4 linked regions of the Homo sapiens genome follow. The protein of the gene in region 4 purifies or fractionates together with the protein of the main gene of each other region. This does not show direct contact. Each region holds a gene or a part of one and is shown on either strand. Other genes may lie near its edges.

Region 1 (3,500 bases), on a different chromosome or scaffold from region 4:
TCTTGAAGAATGGACTGGATACCATGCAGTAGGTATGGAAGCTGGAAGTAGGTATGGAAGCTGGAAGTAGGTATGGAAACTGGAAGTAGGTATGGAAGCTTCCAGTAAGCTGGAAGATCTTAGCGAAATGGCATGGACCAACTATGAAGCAACCCAAAAAGGGTAGCATGATGTTGACCAGTTGGAGGAGTATAAAGAAACTCCATTTCATGTTAAGGCTGGGAACATTCTCCTCCAAGGGACACATGAATCATTGTTATTGCATTAATAGGGAAGAAAATGTCTAGGTACACTGTTGTGGTTGTTCTACAGTGATCAATATTTACATAGTTATAATGTCACCAACACTTGATTTTCTACTTTCTTGAAAGAACCTATAGGCAATTTACAGCATCCCTAATTTGGGTTACAGAACAGAATGTAAATATTACCAACCCAAAGACTACAGCAGAAGTAGTAAAGAGTGGCTGCCTCTGGGTTCAGACTGAAGGATAAGATAGGAAAGGGGGAAGGACTTTTGTTTTTCTTCTTTTGTTAAATTTTTAAGCCGTTTACATATATTACTAAGTGATTTTAAAAACAACTGCTCAGGCCAGGCACGGTGGCTCACGCCTGCAATCCCAGCACTTTGGGAGGCCGAGGTGGGCAAACACCTGAGGTCGGGAGTTCGAGACCAGCCTGTCCAACATGGCAAAACCCCGTCTCTACTAAAAATACAAAAATTAGCCAGGAGTGGCGGCGCACACCTGTAATCCCAGACACTCAGGAGGCCGAGGCAGGAGAATCGCTTGAACCCGGGAGGTGGAGGTTGCAGTGAGCCGAGATGGCGCCACTGCACTCCAGCCTGGGCAACAGAGTGAGACTCTGTCTCAAAAAATAAATAAATAAAAATAAAAATAATTGCTCTTTGAAGAGTTCGGGATTTAGACTCAAAAGCTCTTTGTTCAGGTGTCTGGTTTCGGTGCCACTTCTGGGACCACGGGCAAGTCACACAGGCTTCCCAAAGCCTGTTTCCAGACCTCTAAACACCACCACCCCTCTAGGAGCCAGGAAGTGTTGTCAGGAGGAGTCAATTGAATAATGTATGTGAAAGCTCTGTGTAGACTGCTAAGAATCAAGCAAATGTGAACTCTAATTTGTATTACTGTTAATTACTTTATTAGAGGAAGTAGCTGGTTGAAATTACAGCATTCTACCTGAGAGAGTTCATGTAGTTTCAATCTCTTAAGTGATTTTGGGTCATGAGGAGGAGGAAGGACTGTATTTTTGAGCATCTGCTCTGTACCGCACACTGTTCTTATTGCTTCACCTGGGTTTTGGTGTTTCTCAGATTGTCTTCAGATGACCCATGGTGCAAGGGGAAAAGATCATAGGTCTCTAGGGGTTTATGTGCTAGCTGCTTGAGAAAAAGTTATGTGAACCTTACATTCTATGCTATAAGATGCCTTGTTTGTCATAATTTAACAAAACTGAACACTGCCATTTAGTCCAGTTCACCAGCCCTTTTTTTTCCTGTTGCTCCACATTCTCCCGTGGAATTCCCCCTGGGGTCAGTGGCAGAAGGTAGCCCCCAATTTGAAAAACACCAAGTGATATCTGACTGGCCTTCTGTAATACTCAGGATGTTATGGCATAGGTGATAATATTCCAATTCTGCTCAACAAAGTTTCAAAGAGATTGAGTGATTTATCCAAGGTCACATAGCTGGTAAGTGAAGGAACTGGGTGTCACCCCAGGTTTGTTTGATTCTAAAGCATATGCTTTTGCTCAGCCCTGCCTTTAGAGGTGGAAACTCAAATTAGCCTTTTATAGAGCTCTGTTTTACACACTTGGAAAATAGAATGCAAACATCATTCTTGAATTTCTCCTACTTTGGGTCCTTATTGATTGATGGTTTTGTCTCTGTTTTCAGCCAAAGCGCCAGACAAACCTATTCAGGTGGTTTATGTGCCCTCACATCTGTTTCATATGCTATTTGAGTTGTTCAAGGTAAGTGGAATTTTAAAAACGTGGAAAGAAGTCTTCATTTTAAATTACTTTGATTCAGGGCATAATGGATTCATTAGATTAGCATAAGAAAAAGGTTTTGCATAACCATTTTAAAAATTCTATTTCTGATATCCTGTGGGTTTTATAATTTGTACACTGTGAGATGAGAAATTGCTGTGTACACTATAGTTTTTGTGAATATTAGTACATATTGATTTTGAAGCTTAATTGCACTTTAGTGATTTTATGTAAAATCCATACTGTTTTTTCTTTAGTTATGAGATTAGAGATGCTTTTTAGTTTCCAAACCTGGCAAAGGCTTTACTGGTGATAGCCAGATCAAAATAAAAACATGTTTATACATATTTATGCTTCTGAAAATTAACCACACTGGTACATTAGTGGTTGTTCCAGTCCTGAGAGATCCTGCAACTCTTTTATAAAATATTTGAATCAATTCAGAAGATCCAAGAGAGGCAGAGGAGAAAGATGTAGATGAGCTGGACCAAAAGAACCACCCCTCCCCCCCACCAAATTCTTTAGAGTCTGCAACTTAAGCTGTTGCTTTTGTTAATCAGTAGCTAATGACATTTACAGTAGCAGTATTACAGGCACAAGGCATTTGAGCTAAAATTTCATTTCTTCCAATGCGTGAAACACTAAATTGAACACCTGAAAAATCAGTTATGCTGATTTGCTTCCAAAAATTAGAATGTTACTGATGTAACGCTTTAAGGTTGAAATGGGCATTCAATTGTGAACTTTCTCTTCAGCAGCTGTGGCTTTTTCAGAATTTCTTTTTAACCAATATTTCTTCTACTTTTTTCAGCCAAATGATTAATTTTTGTGGGAAGCATGCATCCTTTCAGTTTTTCTGCCTTCTTTAGAGAAAAGGTGCTCTATAAATGCAGACTGATAAATAGGATTTAAAGTGCACAAATCAGCCTCTGCATAGCCTCATTACATGCGATAAAAACATTCCTCTGGGTTGAGTTGAATAATTTAAATACCGTAAAGCGAAAAAAAAAAAAAAAGAGGAAGAAGAAGAAGGAAAGAAAAATAAATATTTAGCATGTTGGATGAGGCTAAAACTAGGTGAAAAACAAAGTGTCAGGAAATTTTTCCTTGATTTGAGCACGTTTAGCTAAGCTCTTTAGAGGGAAAAATGCCATAAAAATCCAACTAATATTTGCCCCAAAAAAGGGTTGTTGGGTATAAGTCATCTTGCGCTTCTTTCTCTTTAAAAATTGTGGTTTGTGATTCGGCAGTATGATTAATAAAAAGATCTTATTATTTTAGAACTCAATGAGAGCGACAGTTGAACTCTATGAAGACAGAAAAGAGGGCTACCCTGCTGTTAAAACCCTCGTTACTTTGGGTAAAGAAGACTTATCCATTAAGGTAACTGTTTTATGTGCATGTATACTTTAATTATCAGTTGTGATTTAATAGTATCTAGACATTGAAAAATCAGAGGGAAGGAAATTGACATTTATTGAGTGTCCTGTTTG
Region 2 (3,500 bases), on a different chromosome or scaffold from region 4:
CTAGTTTTTGTATTTTTAGTATAGACGGGGTTTCACCTTGTTGCCCAGGCTTGTCTTGAACTCCGGAGTTCAAGTGATCTGCCCGCCTCGGCCTCCCAAAGTGCTGGGATTACAGTCATGAGCCACCGTGCCTGGCCACCATTTACTTTTCTCGGTGGTTTGGCTTGTTTTGGCTTGCGGGTATAGGAGACACACTGGGTGGGAGGTGGGGGTACGTTCTATACGTGCTGATTTAATCGTTTCCGATCTGGGGACATTTGAAGGATGCCAGCAAGGCCCCCTGCTGAAAACTATGCTCCCTACCCTGGTGCCAGGGCTGAAAATTTCAGCACTAGACATCCTCTTCTCTCTCCGCAGTCCTTCTATAATGTATTATCAGGGGCCACAGTGAGAGTCTGGGGCCCTCCCAGCTTTCCCCTTATGTCCCCAGGATGGGCCATCCCCAGTTCTGGAAATACGAGTTCGGTGCCTGCACCGGCAGCCTGGCTTCGCTGGAGCAGTACTCGGAGCAGCTGAAGGACATGGTGGCCTTCTTCCTGGGCTGCAGCTTCTCCCTGGAGGAGGCCTTGGAGAAAGCGGGGCTCCCCAGAAGAGACCCAGCAGGTCACAGCCAGGCGGGTGCATACAAGGTAGGGACACAGCCCACAGCCCACAAGGGCAGAATGGCCTGAAGATGCAGATCAACTTACATATTCCTGGGGTGGGGAGAACATGGGCACGGGAGGTGGAAAACCTAAGCTCCAGCCCCAGCTCAGCCATTTCTAGCTGTGCAACCCAGGAGAAATGATCAATCTCTCTGAGCCAGCCTCGGTCCCACTCACCTCTGGGACCACTGTGAGCACCCAGTGTGGCCCTTCTTCATGGTTCAGTGCTGTAAACCAAACCTGCTTGGGATTTCTCTGGCTCCTTTAACTTCAGGCACCTCAGCGAGATTTTTAAAAATCCTCCCTGGCTCCGGTGAGCCTCAGCCAGGGGGAATGAGCCTGGCTCTCTCAATACCCAGGGATTTGTGGCAGAGCCTCGGCCAGGCAGTAGCTCCTGGGTCAGGTCTCTGTCCAGAAAGCTGGGTCATGTTCTTGGCCGGAGGTGGCCTCTGGCAGTCACAAACACAGCACAGCCGGCGTCTCTGGGACGTGCCTGCTGTGCCTCTCCCAGCCCCTACTTGTCAAGGTGAGTGCACTCGATTCCCTGGTTCCACAGACCCTTCCTGGACATCTGTTGGTAAAGTCTGAGAGTTCACTCTGCTCCATCAGTGGTCAGCCAGCATAAACAGCCAGGCTCCAGGTTTCTTTATTTATGGAGGACTTGGATCAGAGATTTTGTCTTGGACTCTGGGACATTTATTAAAATGTCTTGGTTTGGGCTCCTGCCAGAGAGGCCCCAGCTGCCTCTGATCAGCAACAAAGCTGCCCATAGTCTGTGCTGCCTTCATGGGTGAAGTGTGCCCGAGCGGTTCTCTTGAAGCTAGGGAAGGGTGGGGATGGGACCCCAGCCACTGGCAGGCACCCATGGCAGTCTCTGGCTCTGGAACACAGCACCCTTTGTAGGAGGTGGGAGCTGAGAGGGCCCCATGGCTCGTCACATGCAGATTCTCATTTTAGATGAGGAAACCGAGGTCTAAAGAGAGAAAAGGACTTGCCCAAGTCCCAAAGCCAGATGGGAACCTGGAACCCCTGGCTCCCATCTGTACAATGTCAATAACAGAGATGTGACAATTAAATGATGCTTTGCAGTCACAGGGTCTGCTGATATGGCAACTGTTTGTTGCCTACAAAGGTGCAAGTAAGTGTCCACAGTAAGTGCTCAACAGGGCTTCACTGACCCCGATGCTTATCAAATAGCTTTCAGTCTAATATCGACACCTCTGCCCCTGGGCTCCAGGGAGAGATGGCCAGACAGCCATCTGGGATTCCATTGGCCACCCCCAGACGGGATGTGTCTCAGCCTTGGGGAGGGCTGCCTGGCTCTGCCAGTGGCTCCAGCATGTCCCCTCTCCTGGGTGCTATTATGCAGACACTGCTGGCAGCCACACCGAGGTTCCATCCTGCTGCCGCCAGGGTGGTGATAGCAAGCTCTTTAGGTGGTGGCCAAGACTGTCACAGTGGATTATAGTCCTGGCCATGTCCTAAATCTTTCATAAGCTCTATTGCAGGCACCAGAAACCATTCAGGAGGTGGGGTGGGGGAGCGAAACACCAATAAAAGTCACACAGATCAAACCGGGCAACATCTGTTAAGGCAGGAGGCACCAGGCCGTGCTCCATGGGGTCTGGGGACAGGCTTGTTGCTTGTGTGGATTCAGGAGGCAGAGTGAACACCAGCTCCTCCTGTGATGTTCTCCCTTGCCTCCCTCTGCCCGTGATTCACCAGAGGCTGTTTACCTTTGGTCCATGGCCCTTGCAGTCCCTAGAGAAATTCAGAGGCTCCATGATATTGGATGGGAAAAAAAGTACGTTTTTCTTTTCCCTTCTTCCCTCCCTCCCTTCTTTATTTTATTTTATTTTTATTTTTATTTTTGACAGTTCTTGCTCAGTTGCCCAGGCTGGAGTGGTGCAGTGGCACAGTCACAGCTCACTGCAGCCTCAACCTCCTGGGTTCAAGAGATCCTCCCATCTCAGCCTCCCGAGTAGCTGGGACCATAGGCATGTGCCAGCACACCCAGCTAATTTATGGTTTTGGTTTTTTTTGGTAGAGACAGGGTTTCGCTGTATTGCCCAGGCTGGTCTTGAACTTCTGGGCTCAAGCGATCCAACCTTCTTGGCCTCCCAAAGTGCTGGTATTACAGGCATGAACCACTGTGCCCAGCCTCAATTTTATTTTCATAACCTCAACTCACATTTAGCATTTCCTTCAATTATGAATGTAGGCAGCAAATGGCTGTCATATCAGCAGACCCTGTGACTTCATGGCTGGCAACAGAAATCACAGATATCTTCATATCACGTTAGAGTTCTTCCTGATGTCTCAAAAATATCCTATATGCTGATCACTACTTCAAAGTTACAATGATAGTAGAACTGGCATCTTGTTTCTTAGGCTGCTACTGAGGAAGCATGCATATTGTCTCACATTTTTCCTTTTTTTTTTTTCTTTGAGATGGAGTCTTGCTCTGTCACCCAGGCCGGAGTGCAATGGTGTGATTTCGGCTCACTGCAATCTCCGCCTCCTGGGTTCAAGCCGTTCTCCTGCCTCAGCCTCCCGAGTAGCTGGGACTAGAGGCGCGTGCCACCATGCCCGGCGAACTTTTGTATTTTTAATAGAGATGGGGTTTCACCATGCTGGCCAGGCTGGTCTCGAACTCCTGACCTCGTGATCCGCCCACCTCGGCCTCCCAAGTGCTGGGATTACAGGTGTGAGCCATCGTGTCTGGCCACATTTTTCTATTATTTGATAACTGTGCTTGCAGGATAATTGGTTTCCTTTGGAATCCTGTGCATTTTCTTGTATGCAGTTAAAGGCATTACTTTGACCAGGGGTCCACAGCTGTACTAGTCTACCAAA
Region 3 (3,500 bases), on a different chromosome or scaffold from region 4:
TCCATCTTGGGAGGCAGAGTGAGACTCCATCTCAAAATAAAAAAGTAAAATTTATAGAGTCAGGGACTCCTGAGTTCAAGTTCAGCTCTGTCACTGGTTGTGGTGGCTTGGCCAAATGTGCAATCACCTTTTCATCCTCAGTTGCCTTGTCTCTAAAATGGACTAATAATTAATAATAATAATAAGAGAACCTACCTCAATGTAACTGTTTCTGGGTCTACTACAGATTACAGTTAACATAAAAACCTGGCATATCACAGTATCTCCGTGGACTAGATCTATTTCTGCCACATGACGAAGGGGAATATTTGATGCTAGGCATTGTTCACTTACACATTTAGTTAATCCTCACAACACACCTATAAGGTAGGTCCTTTTATTAGCCCTGAGAGGGGTACCTGAGACACATAGAAGTTAGCCAACGTTCCCAAGATTGCATGCTAGGTGATGGCAAAGCCAAGGTTTGAAGCCAGACAAGGAGCTTCCAGGACTCGAACTCTAACTGCTGTGCCATATGTGATCAGCATGATTATTACCATATAATGAGCCTGGTGGTTGTTTGCTTAATAGTGAGGGAGGTACACGCCTAGATTTTATGTTATAAATATTAGAAATTTTTACCATTATTGTCAACATGGATGGACACTCTACTTGTGCGTATGTATGTGGGGTATGTGTGCTTAGTAATATCTGGGTCCAAGTTGGATTCTGAAAGTGAACCCAAATCCTACCTTCTTTTACACTTTTTTCTCCCAAGATCTAAACTCTTACTACTCAAAACTATGACCTGCAGCCCAGTGGCATCAGCATCACCTAGAAGCTTATTAGGAATGCAGAGTTCCAGGCCTACCCAAGCCCTGATTCAGATTCTGCATTTTGAGAAGATGCCTAGGTGACTCCTATCCACATTAAAGTTTGAGAAGCCTTGCTCATGTCGGTATTGAAAAATCCTTGCCGACTTGACAAGAAGGCAATAATATAATTAGTGTGTGTAGCAAATTGTCAGTGTTCCTGAAAAGACTATTTAGATATTGCAAGAAGGAGTTTGGACTGAGGTTTTCTTCTGTGATTTTCCTCATCCCAATTTTCAGCTGACTTCCTCTCTTTCTTCTCTGCTCTAATAGTCAAAGCTTGTATCGACAACCGGTTAGAGAAGTATTCTCAGCAGCCTAGTGCAGATTTCCTTTGTGACATTTATCACCAGAATCGGCTTTCAAAGAAAGAATTGTATGCTGCTGTCACAGAGCTCCAGCTGGCTGCGGTGGAAACGGTAAGGGTGGGCTGGATTTGAGTTTGCTAAATGAACGGTCTGTACCATTTTTAGATGACAGATTTTAAATAGTAATTCATCTCATTCATTTCACTGGGATTCACTAGCATCAACTCCACAAAAATGAAAAGTCTCATACTAGATGCCACGGTGCCTCCGCGCACAGCATCTATGCCACGGTGCCTCAGCGCACGGCCTCATACCAGACGCCACGGTGCCTCCATGCACGGGCTTCTGTGCTTAAACTCTGGGTAGGAGGAGACTTCATGTGCCCCAGTGACAAAAAGCCAGAGTAGGATGTGATGAGTGCCATGATGTCCATGCAAACTGCTACGGGAGTTCAGGAGCAGTAAAGTTCTCTGCCCTGGCAAGATACAGAATCCAGATTTTTCAAAATTGGAAGTATTTTGTTCAGTTGCACATGTTACCCCAAAGTGCCTAACTGTGGCTGTTACTTACTGTAAAAAAAAAAAAAAAAAAAAAAAAAAAAAAAAAAGGCATACTCTCTTTCAAGCCAATAATATTTTTATCTGCTTAGAATTGTAAACAAAGTCCCAAAGAGTCTGGGACAAGTGGATTTTAACTGAAGCAAAACAGCTCATTGTAAAGACCAAAATTCTGTCTCTGATGTGGCCGATACTCCCTAGGAGATAGCAGATACTAAGTGAGACCAACCCCAAACAAATCCTGCCATAGGCATTCAGGTAGGTTTAATTGACTTGGATACTAGTTCGAGCTGTGATGGGAGTGGCGCACGCTAACCTCCTCCTAAGTCCAACATTTCATGCACCTTAAAGTCTCTAAGCAAAATGTAAAGCAGTTGTTTATTTTCCATGTGCTTCCCCTTCTGTGCTGTTTCTTGCCTGAAGTAAAGGTAGGGTTTTCTCTATCAGGAGATAGCGAGGTTCTCATTTCTCCTCCTGCTCCACAAGGCGGTTGAAAGTGGGAATCCATCCTCGCTCACTTTCCTGTTGAACTGCTTACCCTGGGTGGCTCCTTCCAGTGATCAAAGTACAGTGTCACCCATTATTCTTTTATTTTTTCAACTGGAACGTGACCTCTCTGAGGGCAATGGCTTAGAGTTGTCCACTGCTGTGTTTCCAGGACATAGAACAGTACTTGGCATCTAGTAGCGGCTGATAGATACTTGTTGAATAAATGAAGGAATTCAGGAACTATTGAGTGCCTACTGTATGCCTGGGACTGTTCCAGGTTCTTGAGAGACCACCATGAACCAGAGACAAGGGTTCCCACTCTCATGGAACTTGTATGCAAGTGGGGAAGACAGACAGTAGCCATGTAAACAAACAAATGTGGTCACTTTAGATAGTGGTGTGGATTGTGGAGGACGCCATCAGGATGGTGTAATATAGAGAGATGGAGATGATTAAAGGGAAGCCCTCTCTGAGAAAGCAGTACTGGAGCTGACTCTGGAATAATGAGAAGAGCCAGCCACAGAAAGACCTCGTGGAAGAGCGCTGCAGGTAGAGGAAACGGCCCATGCAAAGGCCCTGGGGCAGAAAGAGGGATGGAGCTACAGAACTAGTAAATGTGGTCAGAGCTGAGACTGGAGAATTGGATGGGCCATGTTAGCCAGAGCCTTGTGAGCCCAGCCTGGGTAAGGCATTAGATTTGATTGCACCTGTGATGGGAAGCTCTTGCAGCATTTTAAGCAAGGGAATCACCTGATCATTTATGTTTTTAAAAGTGGGCTCTGGCTGGTGGATGGAGAATAGACTTAGCCAAGAGAGTGGGTACAGCAGGCCAGTCAATGAGCTTGGTCTGTTCCATGGAGGTCAATCAAGGATAGTTTGTGCCCCTGAGGTTTTCCAGGCCACTTCCCCTCAAATCAGCTGCTGCAGCTTAGCCCCTGCAGTTTTCCCTACAGGCTCAGACTGCCTTACGTGGCTTTGGTAAAAGCTACAGTCATCTGCCCTTTGGAAACTCTATTTGGTACTTGCGGTGAGGGACTCACTGATATGGTTAAATCTGTTTCTTTTTTGGTCCTGGCTATTCTGAAAGTCACATTTGGAAAATCAGAACCATTTGAAAGTGTATCTAATTTGATGGCTACACCCTCTTCCTGTTTTGTAAATTAGACTCTTATAATAATGGCATCTACAGTTTATTTGCAGCCGAGGCTGCCAGTCCTCTGACATGAAGAAGACTGCCTTGGAGGCATCTTCTTCCAAAAATAATAAAATAACCATCATCTCTGAATGGTCTTGCA
Region 4 (4,163 bases):
GTTAATAATATATAGTTTCAAATTGCTAGGAGGATATTGAATGTTCTCAACACAAATGATAAGCCCCCGGGGGAGTGGCTTCTGTGAGACCTAAATCCTCATCTGCCACAGAAGGAAGGCAACACATACTCTCCATAACTGAAAATGCAAGAAATAGCAGAAAATGACTATTATTTAAAAATACGGGCCAGGCGCAGTGGCTCGTGCCTGTAATCCCAGCACTTAGGGAGGCTGAGCCGAGAGGATCACCTGAGGTCAGGAGTTCAAGACCAGCCTGCCCAACATGGTGAAACGCCGTCTCTACTAAAAATAGAAAAATTAGCCAGGTGTCGTGGCGTGCGCCTGTAATTCCAGCTACTCAGGAGGCTGAGGCAGGAGAATCTCTTGAAACCGGGAGGCGGAGGTTGCAGTGAGCCAAGATCATGCCACTGCACCCCAGCCTGAGCGACAGAGCAAGACTCTGTCTCAAAAAAATAAAAAACATACGGAAACAGGTATTAGAAGAACAGCTTAAAATGTTGAAGGTGGTTAGTCTGGGGACCAGTACTCTGGGACTGGGAGGACTAGACCAGAGGTCGGCTGTTTTGCTCTTAAGGCTTACAGAACGATCTAGTTTCAAACTATCTATGTTTAACTTCGACTTTTTCCTATCAGGCTCGGTGCTGCTATTCCACTGAGCTCATGGAAAATTAAATCTTTATTAGGAGCCTTCCAAGATCACAGTGGGGTGGCAATGGGGACAGATAATGCAGAAAAGCGAAGGCTCACTGGTCTACAAATACACGTCTATCACAACCTGTAAAAGTTAACCCTGTCCCAGCCTGGCCAATATGGTGAAACTCCGTCTCTACTAAAAAATACAAAAATTAGCGGGGCGTGGTGGCGGGCGCCTGTAGTCCCAGCTACTGGGGAGGCTGAAGCAGGAGAATGGCGTGAACCCGGGAGGCGGAGCTTGCAGTGAGGCGACATCGCGCCAGTGCACTCCAGCCTGGGCGACAGAGCAAGACTACGTCTCAAACAAAGAAACAAGTTAACCCTGTCAACATCTCGACTTTAAATGCAAAGCACTGCACATGCACACGCTGAACACCTCCCCTTCCTTCTCCAGGGGCAACACAAGCACAACCGCCGCACATTTACGAATCTACACAACTGCGCATCGGAGCGAATGAGGTCAGGGCCCAGAAAGGTGGGGCAGGAACGATCCCAGCCTTCAGCTAATTCTGTCACCTCTAACGTCTGGGGCAAGAACGTTTCAGGAAACCAAGGGGGACCGAGGCTCAGCGCCGAAGAGAAAGACGCCAACTGCGGGACCTGTCGCGCCTCCCGCGCCGGGGTGGAGCTGACCCCGCCGAGTCCCGCCCCTGCCTGAGTTCGCCAGTGGTCCAGGAGCCGCTTTTTTCCACTCGGGAAGACTTCAGAGAAGTCTCACAAAGGACTCGGCTGGCTGCTTTTCTCAGTGCCGAAGCCGCGCCATGCTCGTTCTCAGAAGCGGCCTGACCAAGGCGCTTGCCTCACGGACGCTCGCGCCTCAGGTACTGGCCGCGGGGGCGCGCCCGAGCCCTGGCCGGAGGGGAGGGGAGGGGCGGGGGGTATTTCTGAAGCGTGCGAGCCACGCTCAGGCGCTCCCAGACCTGGGGCCCCGCGCCGCCGCCGAAGTTCTAACGCGGTCTCTGGAGCCGTCTGGCGCGCAAGGAGGAGGCTACAGGCCGGGGTCGTCTCGCTGGCAGTCGCTGTCAGAGGGGTTTTCTAACTGGATGCCAGTGTTTTTGTGATTTTTGTTTTTGTTTTTGAGACGGAGTCTCGCTCTGTCGCCCAGGCTGGAGTGCAGTGGCGTAGTCTCGGCTCAGTGCAACCTCCGCCTCCCGGGTTCAAGCGATTCTCCTGCCTCATCCTCCGGAGTAGGTGGAATTACAGGCGCCAGCCACCACGCCCGGCTAATTTTTTTTGTGTTTACTATTTAGTAGAGTCGGGGGTTTCACCATGTTGGTCAGGCTGGTCTCGAACTCCTGACCTCGTGATCCGCCCACCTTGGCCTCCCAAAGTGCTGGATTGCAGGCATGAGCCACTGTGCCCAGCCTGATGCCAGCTGTTTCTAGCCTAAATGCCACAACTCCCGGGACACCCCCGTGGCGCCAGCTGTTGCGTTTTTTTAGGATAACATCTCCAGATACAAATCTCCGAAAATCAACTTTAAAAGCAGTTATTAGAAATACCTCATTGGCCCATTTTCCGAGATAATAATATTTTTAAACTGTAGATACTAAGCAGTTTTTTATTTTCAGAATTTGATTAAACTGACCCAAAAAGAATGGCCATCAAAAGAAAGGATAGTTGCAGGTATTTTTTGGTATGAAGAAGGGTTTTCTAAGAAAACTAAGACACTTGGGCAATAAGGGCATAACTCATACTGGAGATGAATGAACTCAAGATAGACAATTATAATTAAGACGTTATGCACACAAACTACATAGACATTTGCATGTTGTAACCAAAAATATGTCAGTGAAAGATGCCTACTGAAACTGTTGCGATAGATTATTCTGGGTAGTGAGCCTCAGGAAATTGTCACATGCTAACCATGCCTAAATGAATGGATTTGTAAACTAGAATGCCACGGGAGTGGTCTGTGTATACACGTGTGTTTACATAAATATTTGCATGTACGTACATACAGACAGACTGGATAATTTCTGACAGGGCATTTGCTACTGAACATTAAGCTCACTCAGGCTCAGAGGGCCAGATTAGGACAGAAAATTTACCCATTGGGCATATGACTATTACAAAGGGTGGTTCTTAAAGGATAGTTCCATAAACTTGGTATAATTGAGTGCACTAAATGTACATACTTCTTGATATTGCATCTGTAATTAGAAACAATGATGGAGACAATTCTCATTTGTTGAGTTTTTTTCCTTTTCAGCCTTTATGCAGTATACACCCATAGTACAATGCAATTGGATAAGTTATAGCTTCCTTTTATATTAGTTACATTCCAGTCCTGTTTTTGACCGGTAGTCTTCATCAGTAGATTCAGGAAATACTTTGACCTGAATAGCCCTTCCTGTTTTTTTAGGAACCTTTTAAAAACAAGAGTTTTTTGTTAGTAAACGTATTTTTGGGCCTGCCAAAAGGCATGTGTACTTAATAAATTTTTTTCAATGTGTGGAACTAATACATATGGTATTGAGTAAGATGGAATATTGGCTAAACAGGGGAAAACCCTTTGTAAATTAAAGAGACTAAGTCTTAAATGTAGTTCTTCGGTAAAGGAGTATCATTATGATCCCACAGCCTTCTTGTGAGCAAATTCTCGTGAAAAAATGGCTAGAGGTAGACCCCTGCTAGGAAACAGTTGCTATATATTCATCAGAATTAAGAGTAGTTATCTTTATTGACATCTCTATGTAAACAAGTGTATATGGAGAATTGACAACAAAAGTAAACAATGGATAATGAGTCTATGTGTGTTCCTTGTACCAGACTCAGATTTGGTTGTAACCAAATCTGTAATTGTACCTTCCCAAGATATTTACATTTGTCTTACCTCCTTCAGGTGTGTTCATCTTTTGCTACGGGCCCTAGACAATACGATGGAACGTTCTATGAATTTCGTACTTATTACCTTAAACCTTCAAATATGAATGCGTTCATGGAAAATCTTAAGAAAAACATTCATCTTCGGACCTCTTACTCTGAATTGGTTGGATTCTGGAGTGTAGAATTTGGAGGCAGAACGAATAAAGTGTTTCATATTTGGAAGTATGGTAAAGAGTCATCCAGTTTTAGTATTCAGTATAGATTTTCATTCTGTTAAATGTAACATAAGACTTAGTTCTTGGATCTATATTACCATAGATACATACAGGTTAAGTAAGACTTTTTAAAAGCAATACCAAAAAAATAAATTTAGCAGATCTTCTTCCCAGTGGTACACCTCTAACCACCCCTTGCTTGAACTCTTATGTTATCATAAATGAGAAAACATGCAGTCTCATATATCAAACCATAAAATTGTGAATTAGACTTTAATCCTCAGAAAAATGTTAGAATCGTTTGCTATAAAGATAGCTCATGAAAAATTTAAAGCAGTAATTGTAAATGTTCAAGTGGGTTAAGATCACCGTTGGGCCTGCCAAAAGACATGTATATTTAATAAA

Evidence for each region. The genes of interacting proteins can lie anywhere in the genome.
Region 1: the proteins of NIPSNAP3B (region 4) and PDK3 purify together in Homo sapiens (affinity purification with mass spectrometry; one large-scale study listed by BioGRID and IntAct). This does not show direct contact.
Region 2: the proteins of NIPSNAP3B (region 4) and DGLUCY purify together in Homo sapiens (affinity purification with mass spectrometry; one large-scale study listed by BioGRID and IntAct). This does not show direct contact.
Region 3: the proteins of NIPSNAP3B (region 4) and CYP24A1 purify together in Homo sapiens (affinity purification with mass spectrometry; one large-scale study listed by BioGRID and IntAct). This does not show direct contact.

Annotation. Positions count from the first base shown.
Region 1 is NC_000023.11:24,524,286-24,527,785, forward strand, and holds part of PDK3 (pyruvate dehydrogenase kinase, isozyme 3 isoform 2 precursor), read left to right. Parts: intron 1-1,912; coding exon 1,913-1,989; intron 1,990-3,288; coding exon 3,289-3,390; intron 3,391-3,500. UniProt on the Homo sapiens protein: Inhibits pyruvate dehydrogenase activity by phosphorylation of the E1 subunit PDHA1, and thereby regulates glucose metabolism and aerobic respiration. Can also phosphorylate PDHA2.
Region 2 is NC_000014.9:91,169,573-91,173,072, forward strand, and holds part of DGLUCY (D-glutamate cyclase, mitochondrial isoform b precursor), read left to right. Parts: intron 1-430; coding exon 431-629; intron 630-3,500. UniProt on the Homo sapiens protein: D-glutamate cyclase that converts D-glutamate to 5-oxo-D-proline.
Region 3 is NC_000020.11:54,160,487-54,163,986, reverse strand, and holds part of CYP24A1 (1,25-dihydroxyvitamin D(3) 24-hydroxylase, mitochondrial isoform 1 precursor), read left to right. Parts: intron 1-1,124; coding exon 1,125-1,270; intron 1,271-3,500.
Region 4 is NC_000009.12:104,762,766-104,766,928, forward strand, and holds the start of NIPSNAP3B (protein NipSnap homolog 3B), read left to right. Parts: upstream 1-1,363; 5' UTR 1,364-1,475; coding exon 1,476-1,535; intron 1,536-3,559; coding exon 3,560-3,770; intron 3,771-4,163.